2 linked regions of the Homo sapiens genome follow. The protein of the gene in region 1 interacts with the protein of each later gene in a pairwise test. Each region holds a gene or a part of one and is shown on either strand. Other genes may lie near its edges. The genes, in order: NEK9 and PELI2.

Region 1 (15,558 bases):
GCACATATACATATATACACATATATGTGTGTGTATATGTATGTGTGTATATATGTGTATATATGTATATGACTTGGAGTCAGGCTTTGGTTGGAATTATAGCTCCATTTTTACTATCTGTGATTTTGGGCAAGTTACTTTACATCTCTGAGCCCCATTTTTCTCATATATAAATTGATAATGATAATAATTTCCTTGAATGGTGTTAGTGAGGCTAAAAAATATCATATATGTAATGTGCCTGTCTAGTTTGTAGTAGTCTCTCAATAATGTGGTGGTGGTATTACCATAATATTGTTAGTATTATCATCTTATTATTATTACTGCCTTATCTGTTGCAGCAGAGTATTGCCTGTACAGCCACAATTAGGATATATAAATTAGGACGCAAGTTAGTTGGCAAGGGAACTACATGAAGCCAACAAGGATGGCTAATCTTGCTTTCCTTTTTCTTGGGATTCAGTTGAAAGGTCAGATTATAATATACTCTGAGCATCATATTATTGGCCACATAGTTATAGATTGTATGGCCAGTTGGCTTCATTCTGTCTGATAGCATCAGTGCATCCCTAACCATTTTTTTTTGATGCATACTAGTAGTTATAACAAGAAGTCAGACCTATTGCCAATTCTTTAAATAATGGTCACAGACACCTGAGAGCCCCTACCAGTAGAGTATAGCATCATCTTTATATAACCAGGAACAATGCAGTCATCATTTTCTCATAGAACCCACTTAACCTGTGTGTGAAGATCGTGCAAGGAATTCGGGCCATGGAAGTTGACTCTAGCCAGTACTCTTTGGAATTGATCCAAATGGTTCATTCGTGCCTTGACCAGGTAGGTGTGACTTAAACATTCACTTCAGTTTCGTATTTCCCCTTCCAGCCTCAGTGTTTGGTGTATGGCATAGCTATAAACCATACAAAACCACATCCACTTCCCCAGGGTAGAGTGTATTTGTGGCTATACCCAGAATAGGTATTGGTAATTCATTATAGTTGTGTGCTTCAGTGAACAAATTCTTACTTCATTCTGTTTTGTAAGTGTTAGTTTGTGAAATGAATTTCCCATCTAAATTGTGCTCGATTTTTTATGACCAAGAGTAATTTCTGAATATAGATTTCAAAAAACTGCAATGAAAGATAATTTACCACTTCTAATACAGAATGTCTGTATTTCTCATATCTCATGGTTCCCTTGCTGTGTAGTTCTAGTATTATTCAAAGTATGTTTCATGAAACACTGGAGTCAGAATCACCAGGGAATGGGGGAGTTTTGTAAGTAAAAAGAAGATTCCTGGGCCCCACCCCAGACGAACTCAATCAGAATCTCTGTGGATAAAGCCCAGAAATCTTTATTTGTAACAAACACCTCAGGTAATTCTTCTGTTCTGTATATATTGAGGTTCAAGAGCCACTGCCCTAACTGAACAAGTGAGGAAGATGCATTATAAACATTCTCCTTCATGTACAAGTGTTGATTATAATGAGGTGAGAAGCATAAAATATGGAGTATCACATAAGAAATGATTTTTAAAACAAAAGGATAATGCAGTGGTCTTTGACTAATTAACATCTTTAGATCCGATGTCGCCCATTTCCATTAAGTGAAAACTAACCCTATTTTTACTTTTTAGGATCCTGAGCAGAGACCTACTGCAGATGAACTTCTAGATCGCCCTCTTCTCAGGAAACGCAGGAGGTAAATTATGAAGAAGTCACTCCATTGTCTTTTCTGAGATAGTTGACTTTTAGAGGCTTGATCAGAGTACTAAAAGAAAGAGTAGTGTTTCCTGACTTGGTTGCAATAGTGCTATTTTCTACCAACATCCCTGCTTTTATTGCTTAGGGGTGGCATCTGACTTTTGCCTCCTTAGCCTGTGCTGTTTTGTTGTAAATTTGTACTAATGAGGCCCAAGAGCCCTTCACTCCCCAACCCATTGGTTTTAAACCTTAGAGTTGAGGCATTAGAGTGCAGTAAGGAAGAGGGGTGTCTGGACTCAGACATCCTTATGTTTGTATCTGAATTTTGTCATTATCTTTGTCAAGTTATTTAACATCGTTATTTCTTGGCTTTCTCCTCTATAAAGTAAGATGAGGTCAGGATTAAAGAAGATAACGCATAAAAAGTGGTCAGCCCAGGGCCTGGCATAGGGTGCCTATCAATTGTAGTGTGAGTTGGACTGGTCCTTTGGTTTTTTTGTTTTTTGTTTGTTTTCTGAGACAGAGTCTCACTCTGTCACCCAGGCTAGAGTGCAGTGGCACAGTCCTAGCTCACTGCAGCCTTGAACTTCTGCTGCAAGTGATTCTCACACCTCAGCCTCCCAGGTAGCTAGGACTACAGGTGTGCACCATCATGCCTGGCTAATTTTTCTATTTTTATAGAGACGGGGTCTCACTGTGTTGCCCAGGCTGATCTCAAAGCTGTTGCCTAAGCAATCCTCCTGCCTCAGCCTCCCAAAGTGTTGGGATTACAGGCATGAGACACTATGCCCAGCCTGAGCCTTTGTTTTTCACTGCATTTGTTTAGGTGGTAGGTTGGAGTTGGAGGAATCCTCTTCAGGTACATTTTGCCCATATTTGAAGTCGAGTTTTATTGACTCCTCAGAGGTTATTTCCTGAGATTATTCTGTCAGATATCTTTAGAGATAGGAAGAACATCCTTTATCCCTCTGTTCCTCTAGGAGGTTTCATACCTTAATTTAAAACATTTATCTTCGTTAAATATTTGAGTCTGTATTTCATCCTATTACACTATTTTTGCCTTGCTACGCTTCTTCCTCCACTACCAGTTTTTTGTTTTTATATCTTCCAAATATTCACATACAATGCTCTTTTCAAGTCTTGCTCTTGGATACATTCTGTACATCCCTAATTGCATATTTGCTGTTTCATCAGTACTTTTATTCTACTATGCCATTTAATTAATCTTTTCTGGTTCTTCTCTAGTTGGTCTGTAGCCAGTGTTTTAGTGCCTGAAATTATGTACAGTACTCCAGATACAGCACCATGACCTTCCATTTATGTTTTGTGCACGTGCAGGCAGTATCACCCTTTTGGTCTGGTGAAGCATATTTAAAATTTTTGTCTGGCTTATTTCACAGCAATATAATGATTTATTTTATTTTATTTTATTTACTTTTATTTACTTTATGAGAGTCTCACTCTGTTGCCCAGGCTGGAGTGCAGTGGCGTAGTCTCAGCTCACTGTAACCTCCACCTGCCAGGTTTAAGCAGTTCTCCTGCCTTAGCCTCTCGGGTAGCTGGGACTACAGGCAGGCGCCACCACGCCTGGCTAGTTTTTGTATTTTTAGTAGAGACAAGGTTTTACTACGTTGGCCAGGCTAGTCTCGAACTCCTGACCTCAGGTGATCTGCCTGCATCGGCCTCCCAAAGTACTGGGATTACAGGCATGAGCCACCACACACGGCATAATCACTATTTTAAGTCACTATTTTAATCTCTTATTTCTTGAGTGTAGGCATGAAATTTTTACTGAGATAATTATAGATTTGCCTGCAATACTTTGTTGGAACTTTGTACTTTGATGGAAAACATAAGACAGAGTTTTCCAGACAGAGAATATAGCATAAACAAAATCATAGACACAGGAAGTTGTGGAAAATATTCAGGAAACACAAAATTCTATTTGGCTAGATTAGTGGTTCTAGACCTGGGATTTTTGATGCAAAATATCAGGAGCTTTCAAAAAGTACTGATGCCTGAGCACTACTCTAGGAGCTCAGCTATAATTGATTTAGGTAGGATGACAGCCCTGGGCTAGAACGTGGGGTGCAAACAAAAGGAAGGAAGTCTGGAAAAATAGGTAGGAAATCTTGCATGCCAGGCCAAGAAAATTGTGGTTAATTCAAGAGGTAGTGCAAAAGATAGAGTGGGTATCACATCCACTGTTGAGAGATGGTGGATGTTTGCGAGAGGGCAGTTCACGTGATGAGAGGCATACCTAAGGAAGAGTTATTTGGCAATATTAGTATCTGTGTTAAATTAGTATAGTAAAATGATTAAGACTGTAGTAAGTGAGGCTGATTAGGAGGTATTATCACAGTACAGGTGGGAAGTAGAGCTACCCAGAACTAAGGTGGTGAGACTGGAAAGGAAGAGGTGAGTACAAAAAGTACTATATAGGTAGAATCTGTAGAACCTGAATATTAAAGAAAGGGAGAGAGATGAATCAGAGATGACTGAGGTTTTAAGCCCAGTTGACTGGGAGAATTGGGGAAGGGTGTTGCGGCTAGTTACAGAAATAGAGGAGTCAGAAAGAAAAGCTCATTTGGGAAAAAGCTAACAAGCTCATATTTGGAGATACTGAGTTTGGGAGTCAGTGGGCAGACTAGATGAAGGTGTCCATCAGATACTAAATATGTACATCAGAGGTTCTCAAGGCTCTCTGTTCCAGCCTGGACCATTTCTCAGAGACAGAAAGCAAATGGCCCCAAACTGCTGGCCTTTGGGTATTTAATGAATTGTCTAATGAAAGGACTATATAACTGTTTTGAGTTGTATTGAGGTACTTTGCTAAAAGTATTGTGATGTTGTAGGATGCATACAGTTTATAAGAGGATTAAATCTGTGAAATGTATTAAACAGACACCTTTGCAATATAAAAACCTATTATTTCACTCATGTATCTTTGCTTTTCTTTTGGTAGAGAGATGGAGGAAAAAGTCACTCTGCTTAATGCACCTACAAAGAGACCAAGGTAATGTTCAAGAGACTCTTAAAAACTAATATATCCGAAATTACAACCAGGGGGTTCTTTCTTGAGTGTAGGCATTATTTGATCCGAGGATACTTTGGCATCCTTTCAGGAGCCAGCATCTGCTTAAATGTCAGACAGTCATTTCTAAGAAGAAAGCTATAATTTCACCCTCACACTAAAGTGGCCATCATTACCATGATGAATGTGGAAAAGTGTAGGTGTTATGGGTCAGACTGGAATCTGATCTGGCCAAGCTGTGATGAAGCCCTGAGGCAGGAATTGCAAAGTCTGCTGTGATAGAGCACATTGAAACAAGTTGTCGAGAAAGAACATACTTTCTCATACCATAATTGGCAGTTCTTCTCAGGGAACAGACTGGAAGCATTTTTCTTTGATATTGTTTTTAATGTTAAATGTTCCTTTGTTCTGGGGGTTGTTGGCAGGTCAAGCACTGTGACTGAAGCACCCATTGCTGTAGTAACATCACGAACCAGTGAAGTCTATGTTTGGGGTGGTGGAAAATCCACCCCCCAGAAACTGGATGTTATCAAGAGTGGCTGTAGTGCCCGGCAGGTCTGTGCAGGGAATACCCACTTTGCTGTGGTCACAGTGGAGAAGGAACTGTACACTTGGGTGGTAAGTGAACGCTAAGCATTTTGGAACAGTGCTGTAAGCCTAATTGTTTACTGGGCCCACGATGTCTAAGCATTTTATTAGTTGAACCTATACTAAGGGAGTGGCAACATGGGGTGATGGAATGGAAGCTCTTATAAGAGCAGGGATTTTGTCTGTTTAGTTCACTGATGTATGCCCAGGGCTGGTACATATTAGGTCACCTATAAATGTTTTTTGAATGAATGAATGAGAGAGGGAGAGAAAAATTGAAAGACTCAGGAGACTGGGGTTTCCCATTTACAGCTGGATGATTTCAGACAAGTCACTCAATTACTCTGTTATATTACCATGAGGTTCAGAGCAACTATTACCTGTGAAATAGCTTTGTAAACAAAGGAAGGACTATACCATGTCAGGAAACCCCTGAAGCCCACAGCAGTGATTGAAGATGGCTAGGTATATTTTGTGTAGAATTTGTTTGTTGCCCTCTAGATTCTCCCCTCTCACCTTCCTTAACAAATTGTCTGTGTTTGCTGTCTGTTTCCTTATCTCCCACTCTCTCTTCATTCACCTACAATGCAGCTTCCATCTCTGCCACTGCCACTCAATTGAAACTAGTCTTGACAAAATGACCCATAAATTGCTAAAATAAAACAGATGCTTTTTAGTCCTTACCTAGCTTGACCTCTCGGCAGCATTTGACATAGTTGACCACTCCCTCCTTCTTGAAGCTTTGTCTTTACTTGCCTTCTGTGATAGCATGTTCTCTTGGCTTTCCTCCTGTCTCTTGCTATGCGTTCTCAGGCTCATTTCAGGCTGCTGGAGAGAAATTAGTATCTTAAACATTTATTGGCTGGGCGTAGTGGCTCACAACTGAAGTCTCAGCACTTCGGGAGGCCAAGGCGAGTGGATTGTTTGAGGCCAGGAGTTTGAGACCAGCCTGGCAAACATGACAAAACCCCATCTCTACTAAAAATACAAAAGTTAGCTGAGAGTGGTGGCGCATGCCTGTGATTCCAGCTACTCAGGAGGCTGAGGCATGAGAATCACTTGAGCCTGGGAGGTGGAGATTGCAATGAACCAAGATTGCACCACTGCACTGCAGCCTGAGTGACAGAGCAAGACCTTGTCTCAAAAAAAAAAATATATATATATACTGTCACACACACACACACACACACACACACACACGCACACGCACACACATATATATATAAAATATGAGGACTTGTAGTATACTCATTTAATAGAATTATTTTTCTCTATAAAACTGTTGAAAAGGCCAGACATGGTGGCTTACACCTGTAATCTCAAAACTTTGGGAGGCCGAGGCGAGTGGATCACCTGAGGTCAGGAGTTCGAGACCAGCCTGGCCAACATGGCAAAACCCCATCTTTACTAAACATACAAAAAATTAGCCAGGCGTGGTGGCGGGCACCTGTAATCCCTGCTACTTGGGAGGCTGAGGCAGGAGAATCGCTTGAACCCAGGAGGCAGAGCTTGCAGTGAGCTGAGATCGAGCCACTGCGCTCCAGCCTGGGTGACAAGAGCGAAACTCTGTCTCAAAAAAAAAAAAAAAAGTTGAAAAGTCATCAAGGACTAGTCTCATTGCTGTATAGCAGCCTCTTTGATGTAGCCAGATTCTTTATAACTCTTCCATGTTTCAGGGAAACTGTGACCAAAATTTATGAAACTTCTAGTACAGATTTTCAAGAAGCTATATTCCTGTAGAAAGCAACAAAGTTAGACTATATTATAAAGAATTTTTTTCACCATCACCTGTAATTAAATATATAGTTTACCTTAGACTTGAAGGACAAAGATTAGATTAATGGATATTAATCTGGATACTTTTTAAGTTTTCTTTACCTGTTGGCAGGATCTGTATACTACTTGCTATTAAAATGTTTAATCCCTTTGCCCATTTTTTTCTAATTTCTAAATTTCTAGCTCTTTTTTTCTACTGTTTTTCTTCATATGAAGTTCCATTAAAGATCAGCTTTTGGCATGAAAAATTAAAACTTCATAAGACCTCTCAGCCGGGGATGGTGGTTCATGTCTACAATCCCAGCACTTTGGGAAGCCGAGGCAGGAGGATCACTTGAGCCCAGGAGTTCAAGACCAGCTTGGGCAACATAGCGAGAACCCATCTCTTTAAAATTTAAGTTTAATAAAATGTAATTAAAAAAAAAAGTCATAAGACCTCTTTATTTCACAGAACATGCAAGGAGGCACTAAACTCCATGGTCAGCTGGGCCATGGAGACAAAGCCTCCTATCGACAGCCAAAGCATGTGGAAAAGTTGCAAGGCAAAGCTATCCGTCAGGTGTCATGTGGTGATGATTTCACTGTCTGTGTGACTGGTAAGCCATCAGCAGAAAGTGTCTTAAGTGCATTTAATGTGGGGGTATTTTGCTTAATGCTGTGCAATCTTAGTTGGGATTTTAAAACAAAAGACAGTATACAAAGAACCAGAGGACCTTGAGCAAATATACTCATTAATAATAACATACCAAATTTGCTATAGTATTAGGGGGTGGTGAGCAAGGAGAAGACAGGTGGGTAACAGAGAAGAGGTGGGATCAGGAGAAAATGTGTGTCGTGGTTGGCAGGAAAAATAATCTTACCACCTCATCAGGCTATGAATAACACAAAATTAGGATCAAGACCTAAGTTTAGTTTTGGTCTTGTCATTACTTAGTTAATGATTCCTTGGGACTTATTTTTTTATCTATATAACAAAGATGGCCCCATTAAAATTTTAAGTCCTTTTAATGTGATAATGCTACCACTTTTTAAATTGTTTAATATAGTAGTAGTAGTACACATGACTCTCTGACATAGAACTCTAGACTTGCACAGTCTGTCCTTTTAATTTCTTGGATATAATCAATTCATGTGAGATCATTTGCTGGGGTAGTCCTCATTCCAGCCCTGCCCAACTTTCTGATTAGATAAAATAAGTCAGTCCTTTGATGGATTCTGTTTTCCTTTCTTTTGCAGATGAGGGTCAGCTCTATGCCTTCGGATCAGATTATTATGGCTGCATGGGGGTGGACAAAGTTGCTGGCCCTGAAGTGCTAGAACCCATGCAGCTGAACTTCTTCCTCAGCAATCCAGTGGAGCAGGTCTCCTGTGGAGATAATCATGTGGTGGTTCTGACACGAAACAAGGAAGTCTATTCTTGGGGCTGTGGCGAATATGGTAGGGGTAGCCTTGTCTCTGTCCACTTCTTCACAGGTATACAACCTGACTTCAAAGTTGTATGCATCTAAACCCATCATGCAGCCCCTAAATGAGAAGTGTTAATTCAGTAAATCTTTTTTTTTTTTTTTTTTTTTTTTCTCGAGACAGAGTCTCTCTCTGTCACCCAGGCTGGAGTGCAATGGCATGATCTGGGCTCATTGCAACCACCACCTCCCGAGTTCGAGTGATTCTCCTGCCTCAGCCTCCCGAGTAGCTGGGATTACAGGCACACACCATCACACCCAGCTAATTTTTTGTATTTTTAGTAGAGATGGGGTTTCACCACACTGGCCAGGCTTGTCTCGCTCGAACTTCTGACCTCATGATCCACCTGCCTCGGCCTCCCAAAGTGCTGGGATTACAGGTGTGAGCCACCGCACCTGGCAAAAGAGAATCTTACAGAACCTATTCACTGGGAAGGAAGCCCTCATTATAATGATTTTCATTCTTATGTGTGTTTCAGGACGACTGGGTTTGGATTCAGAAGAGGATTATTATACACCACAAAAGGTAAAATCAGAAGCAACTTATTTCTAAAACCTATCTTAAGTCGCACAGACTCCAATAATATGTCCTCTTTCCTTGGCTCTGTTGTATCAAGGTATTTATTTCCGAAGTGTTTCCTGTTTGGGAGACTGACAATTTAGGATTCCTGATTTAGCACCCTGTGGTCTTGTCATCTGACCAAATCACAGAAAATTGAGAAAGTGGATACAGCGACTGTGGACATTGTGAAGTCACATCTTACTCAGGGATGACAGCTAAAATCAGCGTGTACAGCAGAAAAGTCACATATAGCTACAAATACCCTGGAAAACTCGAGAAGATACTGTAAAGCAGTATACTGTCTCTTAACCCAACACAGCCATTTTCCTCTCCTGTTTCTACAGTTGACCACCAGATGAAATATTAATAGTTGTTTTTGTTTAGCGGTCATGTTGCATGAAACATATTATCTAATTACTCTCAGCCTTGCCAGAGCTGGCCCTGTGAGAGGCTCACAGAGGCTGATACCAGCTGGGGGAAAAGCACAGTCACATCTCTCCCACCTACCCTAGGGCACAGGCTTACCCATTGGAGGGTTGGCTAAATCAGCTATACCATTTATTGTTAGCAGTGTTTTGGGTTTTCTGTTTTCTTTTTTTTTTTTCTTTCCTTGGGAACTTTTAGCCAAACCAGTTTTTATTTATATTTTAAAAATTAAATTATTATGCATTTCTAGGGACCATCCTCAATGGGATTCCCAGCTGTTCCTTTTCTCCTGGAAAGGCTGTGGCAGAAACTGAGGGTTGAGGTTTCAGGTTTTACACACATCCATTGTGACCCCACACATGCATCACCCCACCTTCTCCAGTCCTGTCTAGTTAGCTGTAAAAAGATATGAGCATTTGGAAGTCCTAGATATTACCTCAGTACTCTGTCACCTCTCCTATAAAATGACCAGATTGGGACCCCACAGGGCTACTGAATTTCTGTAACTGTCAAGCAGCCTTCCATCTCAAAGGACAAAATCAGCAATGAATTGAAGCTTCTTTCTCAACTTTTTGACAGGTCACCCTAAGTAGGACCTATTACTAAGACAAACTGAGAGGGTGCTGTCTTGTTTAGTTGACCTGGAACTGTCACCTTTTCTTTGATATTGTAAAACTTGAGCTCTTCGTTGACAACAGTAGCCTTGACCGAGCACAATGGCTCACGCCTGTAATCCCAGCACTTTGGGAGGCCGAGGCGGGCAAATCACTTGAGGTCAGGAGTTCGAGACCAGCCTGGCCAACATGGTGAAACCCTGTCTCTACTAAAAACACAAAAATTAACTGGGCATGGTGGCACACGCCTTTAATCCCAGCTACTCAAGAGGCTGAGGCAGGAGAATCGCTTTGAACCTGGGAGGCAGAGGTTGCAGTGTGCTGAGATCATACCACTGCATTCCAGCCTGGGCGACAGAGCAAGACTCCACCTCAAAAAAAAAAAGAAGAAAAGAAAATAGTAGTCTCAGCCAGGCGTGATGGCTCACACCTGTAATCCCAGCACTTTGGGAGGCCAAGGTGGGTAGATCACCTGAGGTCAGGAGTTCGAGACCAGCCTGGCCTACGTGGCAAAACCTCATCTCTAATAAAAATACAAAAATTAGCTGGGCGTGGTGGCATGCACCTGTCATCCCAGCTATTTGGGAGGCTGAGACAGGAGAAGTCGCTTGAACCTGGGAGGCAGAGATTGCGGTGAGCTAAGATCGCACGACTTCACTCCAGCCTGGGCAAAAGAGGGAAACTCTATCTCAAAAAAAAAAAAAAAGAAAAAGTAGTCTCTAAGACACTGGGCAAACCTGAAAAGAATAGAGCAGTCCTCACTTTCCTGTAGTCATTCTGCTAAATGCAGCATGTCTCTTTTGAAAGAATTTGAGAGCTTTTTTTCTAATACGAATTATATATTTGGGATTTCTTTTTCTGATTTTTTTCTTGCAGGTGGATGTTCCCAAGGCCTTGATTATTGTTGCAGTTCAATGTGGCTGTGATGGGACATTTCTGTTGACCCAGTCAGGCAAAGTGCTGGCCTGTGGACTCAATGAATTCAATAAGCTGGGTCTGAATCAGTGCATGTCGGGAATTATCAACCATGAAGTGAGTGTCCTGATTGGTGTTCTAACCACATCATCAGAATTTCTCTAGGTTGGAATTTCTTTGAGATGCCATTATTGGTTAGTGACCATGGAATTTGACTTTAGTTATGGTCTCATAGGCATTGTGTGCAGAAAAAGAAGCCAGCCACAAAGAGTACATGCTATATAGCTCTATCTGTGTAAAATTTAAGAACAGGCAAAATTAACTTATACTGGCAGAAATCAAAACTGTGGCTACTTATTGAAGGAGGGGTATTAACAGAAGAGGTGGAAGGGATCCTAGAGTAATGGGAATGGTCTATATCTTGATCTGTAATGGTTTTACCAGTATATGTATATAGAAAAATGTGTCAAGCTGTGTGATATTTTGCAGTGTGTTATACTTCAACAAATAAATTGATTACAAAGAATAAAATGATGAAATTCAGCTTTTACCTTATTGAAATAGGAACAAGCAAATTAATGTTATAAAAAAAAACATATTTCCATGCATCACCTTCCTGGAGTTTTTTTGATTGATTGGAGTTTTTTAGATTTCTCCCAAATCACTGATCCTGTTTAGGCTTATCGAATGTAATTACCATTCTGTCTTCAAAAATGTTAGCAAATTCACCACTGATATTGTCTTAGTTTCCTTTTTTTTTTTTTTATTATACTTTTAAGTTCTAGGGTACATGTGCACAACGTGCAGGTTTGTTACATATGTATACATACGCCATGTTGGTGTGCTGTACCCATTAACTCGTCATTTACATTAGGTATATCGCCTAATGCTATCCCTCCCCCCTTCCCCCACCCTATGACAGGCCCCGGTGTGTGATGTTCCCCTTCCTGTGTCCAGGTGTTCTCATTGTTCAATTCCCACCTATGAGTGAGAACATGCGGTGTTTGATTTTTTGTCCTTGCAATAGTTTACTGAGAATGATGGTTTCCAGATTCATCCATATCCCTACAAAGGACATGAACTCATCCTTTTTTATGGCTGCGTCTTAGTTTCCTTTTTGTGTTAATATAATGAGTTTTGTCATTTTCCAAAGAATAAAATTAAGAGACAGAAGTTTTCTGACTCAATGAAAAAGGTAAGAATTAATTTTTAAGCAATCTCTAAAGTAGTGATTTTCAATTAGGAGAGTACAAATTCAGGGCAAGGCTGGAGAGAGTGTCTTTGTAGTTTGAAAAGAAATATTCAGTTGCCGGGCACGGTGGCTCACGCCTGTAATCCCGGAACTTTGGGAGGCTGAGGCGGGCGGATCACGAGGTCATGAGATCAAGACCATCCTGGCTAACACGGTGAAACCCTGTCTCCACTAAAAATACCAAAAAAAAAAACAGCCAGGTGTGGTGGCGGGCACCGGTAGTCCCAGCTACTTGGGAGGCTGAGGCAGGAGAATGGCGTGAACCTGGGAGGCGGGGCTTGCAGTGAGCCGAGACCGCGCCACTGCACTCCAGCCTGGGCGACAAAGCAAGACTCCGTCTCAAAACAAAACAAAATAAAAAAACAAAAAAAACAATATTCAGAATTACTATTACTTGATTTATGTTTTCATTATAGCAGTGGATTTGTTGTGAAATTTTAAACTTAAATGAGAGGATTCTTTTTTAATACTAATTCAAAGGGAACATGAGTTTTAATTAAGTTGAGAAACACTACCCTATAGATGAAATTAGATCACAGTAAGCTGATTCCTTTATGGGCTGGAGACAGTCCTCAGGACTTTAATTCTTTGCCCTGCCCTTGTTAGATATGCAGAGTGTATAACCAAGGTAAATGTCAACGATTCTCTCCTTATATAAATACCTTCTGGGATGGAAAGTTCATGTTTTATAAACCCTAAGTCAGAATCTAAAACTTTGGTTGTCAGAAAGTTCTGCCTCATGTGCTGCATTCTCTGATTACATATTCAGCTTATTTCCTCTTGTTTTCTGTTGGAGATGGAAAACTACCTGGCACCCTCTTCTTAGTAATATAACTTACTTGAAAGGCCTTTTGGTCACCAGGACTTTTTTCCATTCTCAGCCTGATTTTCCTTCGATTTTCTTACCTCATGCATCTGCTTTGTGTTTTATTTTGTTTCAGGCATACCATGAAGTTCCCTACACAACGTCCTTTACCTTGGCCAAACAGTTGTCCTTTTATAAGATCCGTACCATTGCCCCAGGCAAGACTCACACAGCTGCTATTGATGGTAAGTTGATTTACAACTGTATCACATGCCTTAGTAGCTGAGCCTCTTTTATTCTATCAGGTATTAGGTTTTCTTTATATGTATATCATCCCGATTTCCCCTGAAAATCTAGTATTATTTCATTAATGTATTCAGGTACATATTTTTATTGATAATTATTATAAATGCATAATAAATACATCCTTTTATGAGAACACCACACCTATGATTCCAGACATCTGTTGTCTCTGATTAGCACCTTTTATAAGTATTCTAAGGTAGTACTCATTTTTCTCACTACAAATACAGTACTGGAGAGAGAATACAATATCGAGTCGCTGACTGGATCTAATTGGTTATAGTGCCTAGATACTGTATTTGTCCTAGGTCCAGGATCATGTGGCTAGTTTTATATTTGTATATTCTAACAACCGGAAGCTAATCCATGAAGTCTGCTTGGCTGCATCTTCTCTGGGTTCCAGGACTCATTTGTGCCTTGTTATTTCTTTTTGCTTCTCTCTCAGAGCGAGGCCGGCTGCTGACCTTTGGCTGCAACAAGTGTGGGCAGCTGGGCGTTGGGAACTACAAGAAGCGTCTGGGAATCAACCTGTTGGGGGGACCCCTTGGTGGGAAGCAAGTGATCAGGGTCTCCTGCGGTGATGAGTTTACCATTGCTGCCACTGATGGTGAGTCTGTACATATCATTTCAAGCTTTCTGGACACATGGCTGTGTTTCAGTTCTTGGCTGGGAAAGAAATGGACTAGTTATTTGTATAGCTGAATTGTGGATGTACTTTTTTATTTGTATTAAATTGGTGGCCGGTTATATATATTGAGCTTTATTAACTTTTCATGTGTTCAACATAGTGATTGTTTTTAAAGGCCAGATTTCTAGATAATGATAGGTTAATGTTCTACATTCCTCCTTTTTTCATTTCAGCTTTCACTTTTTTGGTAAAATGTTATAAGAATTATTAAGTACTTCTATATAACTTGCCCAGTATCTTGTTGATTGATTTCAGTAAACATTGATTGGGTAGCTGGAGAGAACAGCATATTTTCTCTGTTGGCTGGGGTCACCTGTACTGCAGTGATGTCCATAGGGACTGCTAAGGTTTGAAGGGCTGCTTTCCGCTATATTATGTATCTCTCAGATTTCTGAGTTGGTCTAATTGATTTTTCTCCTCTCTTTTCTCTGAGACGATTTTTTTGTTTGTTTGTTTTGTTTTTTGAAACAGAGTTTCGCTCTTGTTGCCCAGGCTGGAGTGCAATGGCGCAATCTCGGCTCATCACAGCCTCTGCCTCCCAGGTTCAAGCGATTCTCCTGCCTCAGCCTCCCGAGTAGCTGGGATTACAGGCATGCGCCACCATACTCGGCTAATTTCTGTATTTTTAGTAGAGACGGGGTTTCTTTATGTTGGTCAGCTGGTCTCGAACTCCCAACCTCAGGTGATCCGCTTGCCTCGGCCTCCCAAAGTGCTGAGATTACAGGCGTGAGCCATTGTGCCTGGCCTTTTTTTTTTTTTTTTTTTTTTTTTTTTTTTTTTTTGAGATGGAGTCTTGCTCTATTGCCCAGCCTAGAGTACAATGGCGCGATCTTGGCTCACTGCAACCTCCACCTCCCGGGTTCAAGTGATTCTTGTGCCTCAGCCTCCTGAGTAGCTGGAACTACAGGCACAAACCACCACGTCCAGCTAATTTTTGTATTTTTAGTACAGACAGGGTTTCACCATGTTAGCCAGGCTGGTCTCGAACTCCTGACCTCGTGATCTGCCCACCTCGGCCTGCCAGAGTGCTGGGATTACAGGTGTGAGCCACTGCACCTGGTCCTCTGTGGCTATTTCTTTCCGCAGTATTGTCTGGTTCCTCACTCCTCTTCTTTTTTTTTTTTTTTTGAGACACAATCTCACTGTTGTCGCCCAGGCTGGAGTGCAGTGGCGCGATCTCAGCTCACTGCAACTACCGCCTCCCAGGTTCAAGCGATTCTCCTGCCTTAGCCTCCTGAGTAGCTGGGATTACAGGCACTCGCCACCATGCCCAGCTAATTTTTGTATTTTTAGTAGAGATGGGGTTTTGCCCTGTTAGCCAGACTGGTCTTGAACTCCTGACCTCAGATGATCCACCCGCCTTGGCCTCCGAAAGTGCTGGGATTATAGGCGTGAGCCACCACTCCTGGTCACTCCTTCTCTTCTG
Region 2 (15,558 bases), about 19 Mb from region 1:
TGATAATCTCTATCACCTAGGAAAAATAATAATATGTGACTTATCTGTTGTGTGAAATCTTAAAACTTGAAATAAATGACTCTATTAGTCTAAAAATTCTATTTCTGAGTTTAGGTAATATGGAGAAAGTGTGTGTTTTTCTAAGAATGTGATTGAATCGAGTCTTGCAAACTAGTAAATAAACTTTGATTTGATTTAATAAAATATTGTTCACTTTAAGACAGAATATTTGATAAAACCAGAATTGTGACTCTTGGCTTGTCTGTGATTGACGGAATAGAGCATAGGGGAAAAACCTGACTGTGTGGAAAATGCTGGCTTGTGCTGGGCTTTGCCAGTAGAGTGGTGGCTCATAACTACAGGCAGAATTGATAAGTTGTTGAAATGGAATTGTAATGGATTTTTTTAAAATTTTATTATTAGGCTATCAGCTGCAAAGGTCAACACAGTATATCCTACACTTTGTCAAGGAATCAGACTGTGGTGGTGGAGTACACACATGATAAGGATACGGATATGTTTCAGGTAATATTTTTCTTTTTTAATAGAAATTTTAGCACGTTTTCCTTTAATTCTCTATTTTTTATATGTAATCAGATCTTCCAGCCCAGTATGTCCAGGGGGAAAGAGTTGAAGATAATATAAAAATTATTCCTGTTTGGTTGTTGAAAGAATAAGAAAAAAACTTAATTCTTTAATTGTAAAGGGAAATTATAAAGGCTACATTCTCAGACCTCAGTGCAATAAAAATAGACATTAATTAAGCAAGAATAAAAATTTTAAAAGCTAACCACTTTTAAAAGCCAACATTTTCAGAATACTTTCTAAGTAGCATTTGAATGAAAGGGACATCCAAACTACATTTATAGGTCTTTTCAGAAATAACTGTGGGAATATCATGTAGCACAACTGACAAGACGAGGCCAACATCTTACTCGGAAGAAAATGCCTTACGTGCTTTCATTATTAAGAGGAGGGAAAGAGAGAGAAAGAAAGAAGATCAAGGGACTAAACATTTATCTCAAAAGTTCTTTTTTGACAAAGTACAGCAATTAAGAAAGTACAGGATGGGTTTGGGCATAGTTTTAGTGGTATATAATATAAAGTCTAGAAGCACATCAAAAGAGCAGAAGGAAGGAAAAAAACATTCGTCAGTTAATGAATTTAAAAAAAAGAGAATTAATGAATATATTCCAGATTTAGTACTTTAAAACAACAAACAATTAAAATTTAGACTAATAACAGAAAAAAGCAAGCATAAGTTGGAATTGATGAGGCTTTGCATTTCCATATGGAGAGTTAAATTATTACATAAATGATGTCGAAACAAACATCAAAAGAGTATGATAGATACTAACATCATACTCTGCTAAAGTAAATTCTAGAGAATAAACATTTAAATATAAAACTGAAGGAACAAAAAGTTCTAGAAAAAAACTTAGGAGAATTCATATTCTTGGAATAGGGAAGGATCAATAGTAAATGAAGAAATAGATTTTACCCTACGCATTTTCACTTCTTTTTTAAATGTCACAAAAATTAGAAGTCGAACTAGAGACAATTAGGGCAACAAATCAAGTAGACAAAGGATTGATACCTACTGTACAGTAATCACTTTTCCCATGCTTTCAAAAATGGACAAAGAACAAAACATATAATTCTCAGAAGAAGAAATATAAATGGCCAATAAATATATAAAATAGTTTTTAAAATACCAAATGAATTAATAATAAAATACTCTTTATTACCTATTAATTGGAAAATATTAAATAATACAGCACTGTAAAACATTGTATGGAATTGGTCCCCCTGGTGGGACTGTGAATTGGTGCAACATTTCTATAGGGCAACATTGCAGTACTACCATGAATTTCAGCGCTCAGACCAATTGACCCAGTAATTCTAACTTCAGTCATTTTTATACGTAAATAATTAAGGAATATGAACAAAGATTTAACCAAAAAGTTGTTCATTGTAGTGTTGTATATACTAGTAAAAAACTAAAAATAAACCTATACTTCCAGGAGTAGGTAAGAATGATTACAGTATGGTGCATTTAAATGCAAAATACCATGCAGCCATTACATGATTATTAAATGGGAAGCGCAATAAAATAAGTGAAAAAAGGCATATGTCCACTTCATGCTTTATTTTTATATGCACACACATAAACATAGGTATGGAAGAGAGATGGGACTAGAAAGAAATGCACCAGCTCTTTTTCCATTTTCTGTAACATTGTAAAGTACAGGCCTAATCTGGATCACCTAATTCAGTACTTTTGATTGAGAAAGAAAGAATATTTTATGTGGTTTTTAAATGTATTTGCAGTAGTCCTGAACTTCAGCACCTCAGACTGATAAGAAGAGCCAAAGGCAAATTACAAATTGGGGAAATATTTACAATTTGTATCACAAAAGGTTAATGTCACAAATATATAAGGTACTCTTGGAAATCTCTTTTTAAAATACCTACAATCAGATAGACAAATGAGCAGAGGATTTGACAGACAGTTCACCAAAAAAGGAAACTAAGTAACTCTTAAAAATAAGAAAATATGCTCAACCTCATTTACAAAAAGAAAAATGTGAATTAAAACCACATAGAGATACCACTTTTCACTTGTCAGATTGGCAGAAATCCAAAAGGTTTTGTCAAAGATATGGGGAAAACAGACATTATCCTACATTCTATAAATTGGTATAGCATTTATGGGGTAGCAATTTGAAAATAGCTATGAAAAATACAAAATGTTTACATAGTTTGACTCAGCTCTTTTCTTTGTAAAGCTCTTCTTTCTAGAGACTTACCCCAGAGATATCCTTACCTACATGCGCAACGCCATTTGTACAGAGTTATTGCTCAAAGCATTGCTTAATAGGAAAAGATTGGAAACAACCTAAATGTTCTTCAGTAGTGGACCAGTTCAGTAAATTTGGGTACAGCTATACAGTGGAGCCCTCCAAGGGTATAAAACAGAACAAAGAAAAGCTGTATATATAGCCACAGAAAGAGCTCCAAACATATTAAATGAGTTAAATATTAATATTATTGAGTATATGGAGTCATATTGGTAATATATATTCCATTAATTTAAAATGCTACTAAATAAAATGTTATTAAATAATATGAAATATTACATTATTAAATGTTAATTTAATATGGTAAAATGGTTTAAATCATGCTTATATGCATTAAAAAATCTCCAAAATGATTAACAAGACATGAATGTAGCAGTTGCCTTTGTGGGGAAAGGGACTGAGCAGGTGGTATACAGGGAGATATTTTACACTTTTCGATTTTTGGAACTATGCGTATGTGTTAGATATTTAAAAACTAAATAATCTTAGATAAAATATATAGTCATATTTATAAAAATAGTTATTAAAGTGCCAGTTTGAACTCAAAAATAAGATTTATCATGTTTGGGCAAAATACTAAATGTGGTTTTACTCTCCATGCCATTCCATTATATAATCTTATAAATGTCTTCTTATTCTGTTAAGGAAAATATCTTCCTACATAAGTATATGTATATTCTCCCCTGTTGATATTTTTATGGAACTTTATTATTATATCTTTTTAATACTCATTAAAATTATTTTCAATTTATAAGTTTTTTTACTACTTACAGTAGCAGTGAAGATTTTAAAGATTTTTTTTACAGAGAGAATTCTTAATACTAAAAAAGTGAATAAAGCCTATTTCACAATTGTCAGTGATACTTTTTTACCACTTAAATTCAAAAACTACTGTGATGGTACCTGTTATAGGTAAGTCAGGTACTCTCAAAGTGTGAGACATTAAATTCCTTTAAGAAGAATCTTGTTTCTTCGGAATTTTTCAGAGTTTCATAGATATTCTTTAGCGACGTACGTGTCACATAGTGTATTCCGCACTGTTGAACAGTCACATTCGACTCACATGCTCACTTTCTTCCCTCTCATCTCTGCAGAATGAATTAAAAGATTTAGTTGGACTTTTTCAGCTTCCCGTTACTAACTTCTGAGTACTTTATGCATACTTCCTATTTTGTCATACAGAATATCGAAAGACTCAAGATTTAATAAAGTTCATAATTTTTAACTGCAAATTCACAGCAATGAAAAATACAATGACTGCTAATACAGTTTGGTGCCACTGCTTTGAATCATGCCAAAGCACCAGCAGCTTTACCCACCATTGTTCTAGCACCATCAGCATAGAGACCAGCACAGTGGAAAAGGCAGTTAACGTCTTTGTATTATTATGAAGGTAATTTTGGCCTCATGTACCTAGACCCCATGGCAGGGTCTCAGGGACCCTCTGGGGTTCATCAACCACATGCTGAGAATACTGATTTGTACCAACCTCTTAATTTCATAGCTGAGAAATATGGGTGTTTGAAAGGAAAAGTAATGTAAACTAAGGCCAGAAGAGAAGAGGCATTAGGGGCAGAGCTAAGATTTAGGTCACTGAGCTCTTCATTCTCTGAATAGTACCAGCTCAGCCTCTTTAAATAAAGTATGGTAAGCCAAGCAAGAATTCACATGTTTCTTAAGGAAATATAACACATTACATTCACAGACTCACTGGACCTGTTAGAAGGATCTGTGGCAGATCATTTTAAGCAGAGAACTAAGCAACTCTCATAAGACCTTGAAAAGACAGGCTTGTTTCCATTTTTTCCTCCTTTTAACAAGTTTATATTTCCAAAGCCTACTACTGACAAAAATCACTGAGCAAAAAGCGCGACAGCACTCATAGTTCTGAAGTATGGACCTCAGTGTGGAGAGTTTGTTCGTTTTAGTCATTCCCATTAAAATGATTTCTAGGGTTAATTGAGTATTTAAAGGCAGAATATCAGAAAGAACCAAGAAAGGGCTTTATGCTGCATTTCCCACTGTTGGAGTCAGTTAGTAGACTCAGAACTCAGAAATATTATTGCCTGAGGAGAAAAATCAAAGCTAGATCTGAATTTAAGGTATAAGAAATTGTTAGTTAATATAATCAGAGTAAGATCTTGGTCATTATTTTCTGGAGTAGGCATAAACAAGGAAAGAAAGAAAAGTCTAACAAGAAAGTGAAACATAAAAGAGAAAATAGTTAATGGAAGGAATTAGAGGGGTGCATTGTCTTTACAGTGTCCCTAGAGTAACGTGTGGTGCCAAGTGCCTTCTGACCTTAGGGGCCAGGAGACTGACTGGGCCCTGCAGCCGGTGTTCAGGGGCCCTTTCTCTCAGATTTCACAGTTTCACAGGCTTCGAACGCGGTGCTACAAGGCCTAACAGTTTTGGGTTTTGGTTTTTTGTTTGGTTTGGTTTGGTTTGGTTTTCAATTTAGTTGATTTACTGTAGTTTTAGATGATAACATTTAATTAGTATCTATTAAGTTAAGAGGAAAATATTAAAGAATATCTACATTTTCTAGTGGGTATTTCTACAACCATTGTACATGAGCATGCATGTGCAGGTATGTTTGTATCTCATAGGATTCAGCCTCCCTGTCATAATCTTCCAATTACTAGTTTCATCTCTTGACCATCTGCTGTGTCAGAAACTCCTTTGATGACTGGGGAGAGATAACTAAGGCTCTCCTCTCAAGGAGGCTACATCTGGAGAAGGCAGACCACAAATAAACAAACCCTCTGGGCAGAGGAAACAGTGAGCGCAAAGGCTCCAAGTCAAGATCACAGTGGAGAAGGACAGCAGTGAACTCAGATGGACTTGGAAGGGCAGGTAGAGGCTGAGACAGGTAGGACCTTCAGGCCAGGTTGAGTCTGAGATTTATTCTAGGAATTTTGGGAAGCTGTTGGAGGATTTTAAGCAGGAGAGAGGTATAATCTGATTTATGTTTTTGTACGATTTCTCAAACTACTGTATGGAAAAGAATCTAGGTGGCAAGTATGAAAACAGGGAGACCAGTTTGGAGGCTAAGGTGATAGAACCCAAGTAAGACATAATGGTAACCAGAACCAAAATGGGAAAAGTAGAAGGATTGAGGATGTGTTTGGAGGTACAGCTGACAGTGTTTACACAGGGCTAATGTGGGCATGGAGGAAACTGAAGAATCAGGTTATTCTTGGGTTTTGACTTTTAGCTTGAGCAAATTGGATGTCAGTCAGTCATTGATATAGGGAAGCCCCAGGGTGAAGGGGGATCCAAGTTCTGTTTGGCATATATTACATTTGAGATATTTATCAAACATACAAGTGGAGATTGGGTGTGCCGGTCTGAAGCTCAGGGGAGAGATGAAGACTTTGAGCTGTTAGGTGGGATTTGGTGATACTATTTAGGGAGAGAACAGAAAGAAAAGGGAAGGGGGGACTATTTACCAACTGGCCTGAAAGTTTCATTATTTTAGTACCAGGTAGAGATGGACCGGCATATGCTGGCTCAGCATAAGCCCTGGATTTAGCAATATATTGATTTTTGGAATCTTAGCATGCGTGGTTTCAGTAGAGTTGTGGGGAAGGAAGCTCAATTGGAGTGGGTTGAGGAAGAAGGAAGCTAAAGATATGGGTGAGGAAGTGGAGGAGATAACAGGTTTTCCAAGAAGTCTTGCTGTTAAGTGAATCAGAGAAACAGGGCTGGAGCCTGGGGCTTGCTTGCAGGTGAAGGAAAGCGTTTTTAAAGGTGGGAGACTACGCCAGAGCAGGGCTACTCAAACTGCACTCCCTCTGCCCAGCAGTGAAATGTTTGTTAAAATACAGAATGAGATAAGCATACAAATTGAGAGGAAACTTTTATGACAGTTTGGCATTGCGGAAACATCCAAGCAGATGATCATTTCTCAAGTACTCATTTTTATTGTATGTTTAAAAGGCATCAGTGATGGGTTAAAATTTAAAACAACAACAGCAACTATACTGGTCCTTTAACCACAGAGTTTGAGAAGCTCCAGAACGTGTGTGAAAGCTGATGGCATGATCCAGTATAAAAGGAGAAATTGGTGACTCAAGAAAGAGAGGAGATAATATTAGGAGCAAAATCCTTGGGAAAGGGAGAACATTGGAATACCAAGTGTCAATGGAAAGATTGCTTTTAGATGGGAGCAACAATATTTCATCCTTATCCCAGGAGGGAAGTCAGAAAATAAAGTGATTGATGCAGGGAGATGGGAGGAATTGGTTGAGGGAGGTGAGAAAAAGGTGAGGCCCTTCTAGATGCTTTGATACCATCTTACCTGTCCTGGCTTCAGCTGACATCCAGGCAAACCCAAACTTTTCTTATATATATAAAATTTAACATGCTGAATGGAGCAAAGTTATCACTGTAGCTAGTTATATGACTACCGGCATTCTGTGACTATCACATGAAATTCAGAAGCACCCTGGCTTGCGTGCTATATGAATATCAGATGAAATTCAAAAGCATCTTGGCTTGTGTGCATGACTGCCTTTAAAATAATGTAGAGTTGATCCAGTAGTCAAAAGAAAGGGCAGGCTGCAAGTTTTCCACATTGAGTGATTTTTCAGCAGGAAAGTGACTTAGTTTTGTTTTTTTGTTGTTTTTTTTGTTGTTGTTGTTGTTTTGTTTTCCTGGAAAAAGCAACATGAGGCTTGTGTCATAAAGTATAAAATTTTACCAGCACTCTAGAGGTTAGATTTAAGTGGAAGCAAACTGATAAGTCATGTGTATGACCGATCAAGATAAGTGTCATGACTTAAAATCATTGATCCTAGCAGGCTGTTCCAGTTAGAATAAAATTTCCTCTTTTTACAGTCAATTTCAATTACTTCATCAAGACATTAATTTAATACATTTGGATGAACTCAGAATGTGGCCCTTCTAGAAAAGAGTAATTTCTGTACACAAGAAGGAACAGTTATGAAACATTCAAACCAGCAGAGTGGTTTTGGCTTTGAACTTAGAGCTTGAAAAGTCATTGCCCTCTTCCATGGAGATGGACAAATCTTGTGACAGTGACTGTCGCTATGAGGCTCCAGGTTTGGTGAGATGACTGGGAAATTCTAGAATTTATCACATTTTACTCCTAAACTTCACTGGAATAGAGGCTCAGGACAGGTTTACGCCTAAGTTTGAAGTTGGCTTTGTTTTCGCCTTTATACTTTTCTCCATTTGTTAAATATTTTGCAATAAGTCTTCATTACTTTTCTAATTTTCTTGTTAAAAAATGTTTAACAAAATTAAAGCAGTCTGAATCAGTAGAGTTTCCAAGTTACCCAGTTTTTAAATGAATCTAGCAGAGAGGAGATTTTGCAGCTTTAGAAGGATGAATTATATGATTTTATAATACATCTAATTTAGATTTTACATTGCATTTTTTAACAAGTTATGTGTTTTCAAAACCTGAAATGCATATATCTAGGCAATATGCATCTGTTCAAATTGTTAAGTTTCAATGAAACCAGCAGTTTAGTTCATTCCAGGCACATTTCATTAGGGCAAGAAATTAAGGGTGATAAAAAAACAAAAGAAAATAGATGTCTGTGGTCTGCTGGTTTTAGAGAGATAGTCTGTGCATGAGAACGTATATATGAGATTTACAAAAGAAATGTAATATTGTTCCAGGAAGCAAGCTGAGCTAAGTGATACAAGATTTTTTTTCTACTTTCTTCATTTGGATGAAAAATGTATTACATTGCCTAGTTTGTAGATAGAACTTTGAGACCAGAATAAAAATGCCTTGGAAATTGACTTTTGGGAACTTTATGTGCATACATCACAGGCCTCTGCATTCCTCCCATTGGCAACTTCAGAATCAGAGTTACAGTTGTTGGGATAGAACATTAATCCAAGAGATAAAATCTGATGAGTGGCCAAAGATCTACTCCTGTCCTCTTAATTGAGCTTTTTCTCAATACTTAAAATCTAATGAACTAGTGAGTGGCATAAAGTGAGTTAAGCAAGATGAGTAAGTTCTAGAGAGTTGCTGTGCACCGTTCTGCCTGTAGTCAACAATGACTGCATTATGTGCTCAAATATTTCAGAGGATACATCTCATATTATATTCTTAGCACAATACAATAAAATTAAAAATAGGTATCTCTAATATTTGGTTACCCTAATATCTTCCCTAGTTAAATAGGAAAAGGAGCACGAATGAAAATCTTGCATTAAATTCTAACCCTCAGAACAAGGATAGTGAATGTTAAAGGAATCCTGAATGCTTTTTCCTTGTGAATAAAATACGGCACCCTGCTATTTTCCAAGTGAATCACGAGTACATTTGATTTACTTAGGTGGGCAGATCAACAGAAAGCCCTATCGACTTCGTTGTCACAGACACGATTTCTGGCAGCCAGAACACGGACGAAGCCCAGATCACACAGAGCACCATATCCAGGTTCGCCTGCAGGATCGTGTGCGACAGGAATGAACCTTACACAGCACGGATATTCGCCGCCGGATTTGACTCTTCCAAAAACATATTTCTTGGAGTAAGTACTGTCAAGAAGTACACGATTTCTAGAAAAATGCTTGTGATTATGATATGGAACATTTAATTGGAGCAAAAAAAAATTGGCTTTGTATGTTGCCTCTAGTGAGATTTTGAGATTTTAGTTTTCAGGTGGCCAGTTTGAGAAACTTGTTATTAAAAATCTGAACATTAATAAGCATTGCTTGTTATTCATTATATTTTTTATATTGTAATATTTACAGTAAGTACTTTTTTTAAAGTATGCCTATAACATTGTCCATAATGTATTTACGGCAACGAAGAGGTTTATTTCAGAGAGAAAAATAAATGGGCCAAATTTAGATCATTAGGGCTTAGAGGAAAATGTTAGTGATTCACTCATTCAAAAATGTTTTATGAGTGTTTGCTATGTTCCATACTGGGTGTTTTAGTTATGGGATTACAGAGAACAACACAGACTTGAATCCCTGCCCTTATAGGGTTTCCTTGTAAACCCCAGAAGTTTTAGTGAATATCCAGGTTTAACATAGTTTCCTTTTGAATTAGGATATTTTTGCAGGAAAAAACCCACTCAAAATGATCTAAAATCAGTGAAAATGTACTATTCCCACATAAGAAGTGCCGATGAAGGCCAGCTCCAGGGTTGGTGGTTCAGTGGTTCTGTGACATCCAGTGCACTGGGTTCTCTCTGTCTTGCCTTCTGCCTCCCGTGGTGCACCAGCCTCTTCCTGGGAGGTCTTCTTGTGGGTGAGAGCTGGCTCCTGCACTTCCAGATGTCCCCTGCCACATGACAACTTCCAGCCAGAGAAGAGGGTGGCAGAAGCACTGTTTCTTCCTTGTCTCTTCTTAGAGCACAGACACCTTTCTTGGAAGCCTCCAAGAAGATATCATGTGTCATCAGTCAGAGCCCAGTCATGTGCTGTGCCCACCTGTAAACCAGCTATTGGGAAGAGGGCTGGGAGTGTCATGTTGGGTTAATCAGGATTCCCCACCACCCCCCAACCCCCGCCCCAGCCACATGAACAGTAGCTGAGCTCTGTCACCAAGAAAGCTGAAGGGAAGAGCTGTGGCACAAGCACCCAAGAGTGTCTGTCCTGTCGTCATGTCAAGCTACATGCGCCATCTACCTTTGAGAATTTAAACGGTGATTATTATGAAAACATAATGACCCCGACTTGTTGGCTTAACATTTTTGGAATTTTCTAGCTTTAATAAAAGGTCTTTCTTTATGACTGTCCTTTCTCTTCTCTATCCTGACAGTGAGAACATAGAAAGTACTTTTAGATAACAGGATAGGAGCATGGCATAAGTATAACTGAAAAGAGAAAACACACCAGATTCCTGGAATCTCATGGGGTTGTGGGGAAGGTAAAAAGAATCTTAGAGGGAGAAGCCCAGGCCTCGATTTTTTGCAAGTTCTTGAGAACTATGATGTGTGTCCAGTGATAAGTCATTCATCCATTCAGCACTTCTTTTATATTGTCGAAAGGATGGCATATGTTATCCTTGTGATTATTAGCTTTAAATAGAAAATGAAAATTCATCACCTTCCTCCCCTCTGCCTCTATGCAATGTATTAAAGAAATTCCAGAATCCTTTCCATTTCAACATCATCTTAACCTACTTTTTCTGTTCTGCTGTGTTCTCTCCAGGAAAAGGCAGCAAAGTGGAAAAACCCCGACGGCCACATGGATGGGCTCACTACTAATGGCGTCCTGGTGATGCATCCACGAGGGGGCTTCACCGAGGAGTCCCAGCCCGGGGTCTGGCGCGAGATCTCTGTCTGTGGAGATGTGTACACCTTGCGAGAAACCAGGTCGGCCCAGCAACGAGGAAAGCTGGTGAGTGTGCTTCACTCTGCAAGTGTGAAGTACGAAACTACTCAAGCCTAACTCGAAGGCTATCATTTTCCTCCCCTGATGTTCAGAACCTTTGTGCAGGTCCAAGCGCCATGTACTGTAACTCAGGAGAAGCAGAATTCCACAAGCCCCTGAAATCAAGAGGGAAATGGCCTTATCTCCTTCAGGGGTTCAACTTTTCCCATAGTGGGAGTAAATTGTGTTTTGCTCCTTACCACCTGAAGAGCATTATCTTTTATTATATACCTCACCACAAAAATCTACTTAAATTCACTTTAAGGAGAAGAAACTTATTTTTAGTGTAAAACTTTATTGATTTGGAAAACGTTTGAGCAGTCCAAAAACAATTAGTAAAAATTATGCATTAAGGAATTATTTACTAGACTTTCTGGAAGTAAAAAATAAGTCAGCTGGTTTTCCCTTTGAATTCCTATATATTAAGGCAGAATTCTCTATACTGTCCACCAAAATCATAGTTACAACTGTTTACTTGAAATGATTTATATACTGCATTGACCTGGCATGTTAATATTTTCCTATAAATATCACCACTTATCCCCATGCCCTAAAGCAGTTTTTTTAAACCCATTCTTTCTTGGAGAATAATTATAATACCTTAAATATAGAACTTTGGGTTTCTGATCTTGCCATAGCCATGTAGCACAGCCACTGATTTTTAGTAAGCTGTCCATTCCTGTACTTTTCTTAATTTGCTAGGTAGAAGCTAGAACGAGAGAGAACAAATGTCTTTTTCTAGAAGCTAGAAAAGAAGGAGTTCTTCAAAACTCCCACAGAATAAAATGTATACAGAATAGAGGATTTGACCTAGCACTTGTCAGAGAGAAAGATCATCACCAAAAATGTCTAAGATGGAAAAAGAAGTTGGGGGCTGTTTCACTGACCTCATTTGCTGTTCTCTACTGGATGTTTGTGTTTAGGGAATGGTTATTTTTATTTCTATTTTACACCATTTTTCAGCTTCAGGCACAGCGTATGCGTCTTACAGTGCACCATGGCTGAATAAATATGAGAAGCATTTTCTAAAAAAAAAGCAAATTCAATAAATTTTGTATGAATGTTTTCAAGAAATTGTAAACAAAGGAGGAAATGTGAAAGCAGTTTTTCTAAATAATCTTTTGTTTCTGATCACTGGATAGTTTTATACAAAACTGACCTAGATTGGCCAAACTGGTTATTCATCATTATAACAGCAAGAGTAAGAAGTCAGTAAATGGTTGCTGGGTGCAGACTCTGCGTTAACATTTCCGACATGAGCTCACTTCATCTGCACAGCAGCCCTCTTAGGGAAGTAGAGTCATCCCCATTTCATGGATGAGGAAGATGTGGCGTGAAGTTAAAGATTGCCCAGTGTCACAGAGTTAGCAGGTGGCAGCCAGTGGGATTCAAACTCAGGTCTCCCTGATGGAGAGCCTGGACACCTAATACTACTCAGTACCATGTTGTGGGGAGCCAGGGATGGTTTACACCTGAGCATTTGCCTCCCTGGGTGAGTATAAAGCATACGCTGGAGTCCGTGGGGAGCGCCTTTGTCCAGGAGGGCATATCACAGGATGAGTTTCTCGTCCACTCTGGTTATTGTGTAATGACCCTTCTCAGGCTGCTATGTGTGCTGGAGAATTTTACAGTGCGACTGAAAAGAACGAACTCCAAAAATGGCTTGTATTAATGAGTTGTATTAAATATACAGGCTATTTTTGAAGTTAGTCCCTATAAGCGACACTGAGAACTATGTAAAATTGTGCTGTCCTATTTGATAGCATCCGATTAACCTGGCCAGTTACAAAGGCTTCTATCAGCCTGATCTTGGGCTTATGGGACACTGAACGGATACATTCTTCCTGCAATCTCCTCTTGTTAACCTCTGGAGAACAGTTTTTGTCTGTCTTCGAGGAAAGCTTACTGACTCTTTGAACTTCTGTTTCAATTCATGACTCATTGGTCCTGTACATGTTGCTGGTAGCATTTGATATAAATTATGTTTATCTGGAGGTTAGATTTTGGAGACAGTCTCTGGCAGTACTTGTCATTTGCAGTCTAATACAGAAATATGAGAAATAAAGTGAGCTGCTAAAAGTCTAAAATATTTGTTAAAACAATAGTAGTCACATTGTGGAGCTAGTGCTGGTGGAAGATTATGTATTAATATCATACTGAGCATTTGATATGAATCAATATACTAATGTATGTGTAACAAGAAATCACCGTTGTTTTTCATTATTACAGCAAATGATGGAACCTCAGAACTGTGTACTAATCAACAAAATTAATTAAATATGGGGGAAATGTCTTTTCAGGCCTTTAACTCCCTGAATAAATAGGTGAATGGAGTTTGAATTGTGCCCTCCTTTTTTAGCTAGTTAATGATAACATATGGTAACATTTATAATATTACTCCAGGAGGGCCTTGAGTATTTAATTAAATTATATATGAAGTATTTTATTAAACTAAACTGGCTTTGTATAAAATTAAGTAAATTCAGTTAAGTTGATTGCATACCTAATTTTAGGTGAAATTATAAAAATAACCATAGCGTAGCTATGGTCAGGCTCTAGCAGGTGCATTACATTAATTGTCTTTCCAGTGTTGCTTAAAATAACCCGTGAAGTCAGTGTTGTTATTGTGTCCGTCTACAGATGAGGAAACCTGGGCTTTAAAAGGTTAAGTCACTTGCTAATAAGAAGTGGTGGATGGGGGGTTGAATTCACTACCCTGTGCTTAGATAGTTGCTATGTAGGGGCCATTAGTTGCCATGGTAGAGGCCAAATGTCTCTTGCTTCCACAATACTGTCAATTCCTGTGCCTGCTCATAGCTTTTCTTTTGTGGTAGAATTTAAAAAATAAAATCTGAATTCATGCCTACTAATGATTGCTAAATCAGGCCACCAGGTTCAAGTCCTGGTTTCACCACTTAGTTCTGTGGTATTGAATTGACGACGTAACCTCTCTGTGCCTGGCTTCCACATCTCCCAAACTGGAATAATATTAATACATGTCTAATAGGACTGTTGTGAGAACTAAATTCAGTAGCTGGAAAGGATTGGAACAGTGCTGGACACAGTAATGCCCCATGACTGGCTGGTTGTTATTACTAAGCAGGGGTTGCAAACTGGGGATGTGGCAGAAAACACCAAGTCCACGCTCTGCCCTCTAATTGCATGGTCTGGAGGAGGTCACAGACTAGGCAGCAGATCAGCAGATACTGTGTGATGAGCACAGTCATGAGAAGGTACCGAAGGTACTTTCCCTCCACAGGACACCTACCCCAGATGTGGGAGTCAAGGGTATGTGGAAAATAAAAAACCATACACCCCAGATTTATAATAAGACTTTGTTGTTTACCAAGAACTGCCCTGCAGGAGGAAAGGGGGGTTGTTCCACAGCCAGAGGCTAGGCCACCACCATACCTCAGCTTCTTACCACATCAGGGTGATCCTTTAGACACAGTTTTATCCTGCAATGAGGCCTCCTCTGAGAATTGCCTGTGGTCAGCAAGGTCAGGAGCCTCACGTCACCAGTTAGAGGAGAGGAGACCATGGGATGCTCGGTATGGTGGTGGGGCGGGGAAGGAGCATCAGCAAACTTCAGGCTGTCTGAAAGGAGTCACAGTGTATGTCCTGTACAGTATTAAGATTTATCATTTGTTGGGACCTTAACTTTTTCTAAAAACTAATACTTGGGAAGGGCTGATTTCTTCATGACAAGGAAAATGTCCAGGGCAAAGTGACATCCAGGTGAGACCTGGATGACAAGTAGGAGTTTGCCAACCAGGGCTCAGCTGGAGCAGGGTGTACTGGAGTGGAGTATTCTAGGCAGAGGTTGCTCTTGCACCTGCCTGTGGGCAGTCCGAGGTAGTGCGCTCATGGACTCCAGCTCCTTGCAGCTCATCGCAGGACAGTCCTGGTTTCCAGTTAGGAAGGGAAGAGCTACAGCAGGAGAAGTCGAGTGACTGCATTGGGAGTGACCTTTTAAGTGTGTTAAGAAGCTTGGGCTGTACCCCAAGGGCAGCAGAAAGCCGCCAAAGTCCTTTGAACCAAAGATTGACAAAATTTCTGGTGCTTCCCATACCTCTCTCTTTCCCTTACATGGTTCTTTTCCTCCACCCCAGCTCCTGGCTCTGTCCTCAGTCCTCTCTGCCCTCCCTGGGACCCTGCCTGGGCAGTGGCATCCATTCCCACAGCTTCACCTAGGTGCGGATAACATCCCAGATATGTTTCTTCGAGCCTGATCTGTCTCCAACGCTGCATCACACGTGCCTTGTATGCATTACCACCACCGATACTCTGCACACCCTCACATTCAGCACACCCAAAACTG

Evidence for each region.
Region 2: the proteins of NEK9 (region 1) and PELI2 interact in a two-hybrid assay, tested with the Homo sapiens proteins (one study listed by BioGRID).

Annotation. Positions count from the first base shown.
Region 1 is NC_000014.9:75,099,485-75,115,042, reverse strand, and holds part of NEK9 (serine/threonine-protein kinase Nek9), read left to right. Parts: intron 1-729; coding exon 730-840; intron 841-1,639; coding exon 1,640-1,704; intron 1,705-4,671; coding exon 4,672-4,722; intron 4,723-5,165; coding exon 5,166-5,358; intron 5,359-7,555; coding exon 7,556-7,700; intron 7,701-8,340; coding exon 8,341-8,541; coding exon of another isoform or gene 8,542-8,577; intron 8,578-9,046; coding exon 9,047-9,093; intron 9,094-11,045; coding exon 11,046-11,201; intron 11,202-13,277; coding exon 13,278-13,386; intron 13,387-13,889; coding exon 13,890-14,051; intron 14,052-15,558.
Region 2 is NC_000014.9:56,279,253-56,294,810, forward strand, and holds part of PELI2 (E3 ubiquitin-protein ligase pellino homolog 2), read left to right. Parts: intron 1-423; coding exon 424-525; intron 526-9,184; coding exon 9,185-9,382; intron 9,383-11,015; coding exon 11,016-11,204; intron 11,205-13,466; coding exon of another isoform or gene 13,467-13,514; exon of another isoform or gene 13,515-14,103; intron 14,104-15,558. UniProt on the Homo sapiens protein: E3 ubiquitin ligase catalyzing the covalent attachment of ubiquitin moieties onto substrate proteins. Involved in the TLR and IL-1 signaling pathways via interaction with the complex containing IRAK kinases and TRAF6.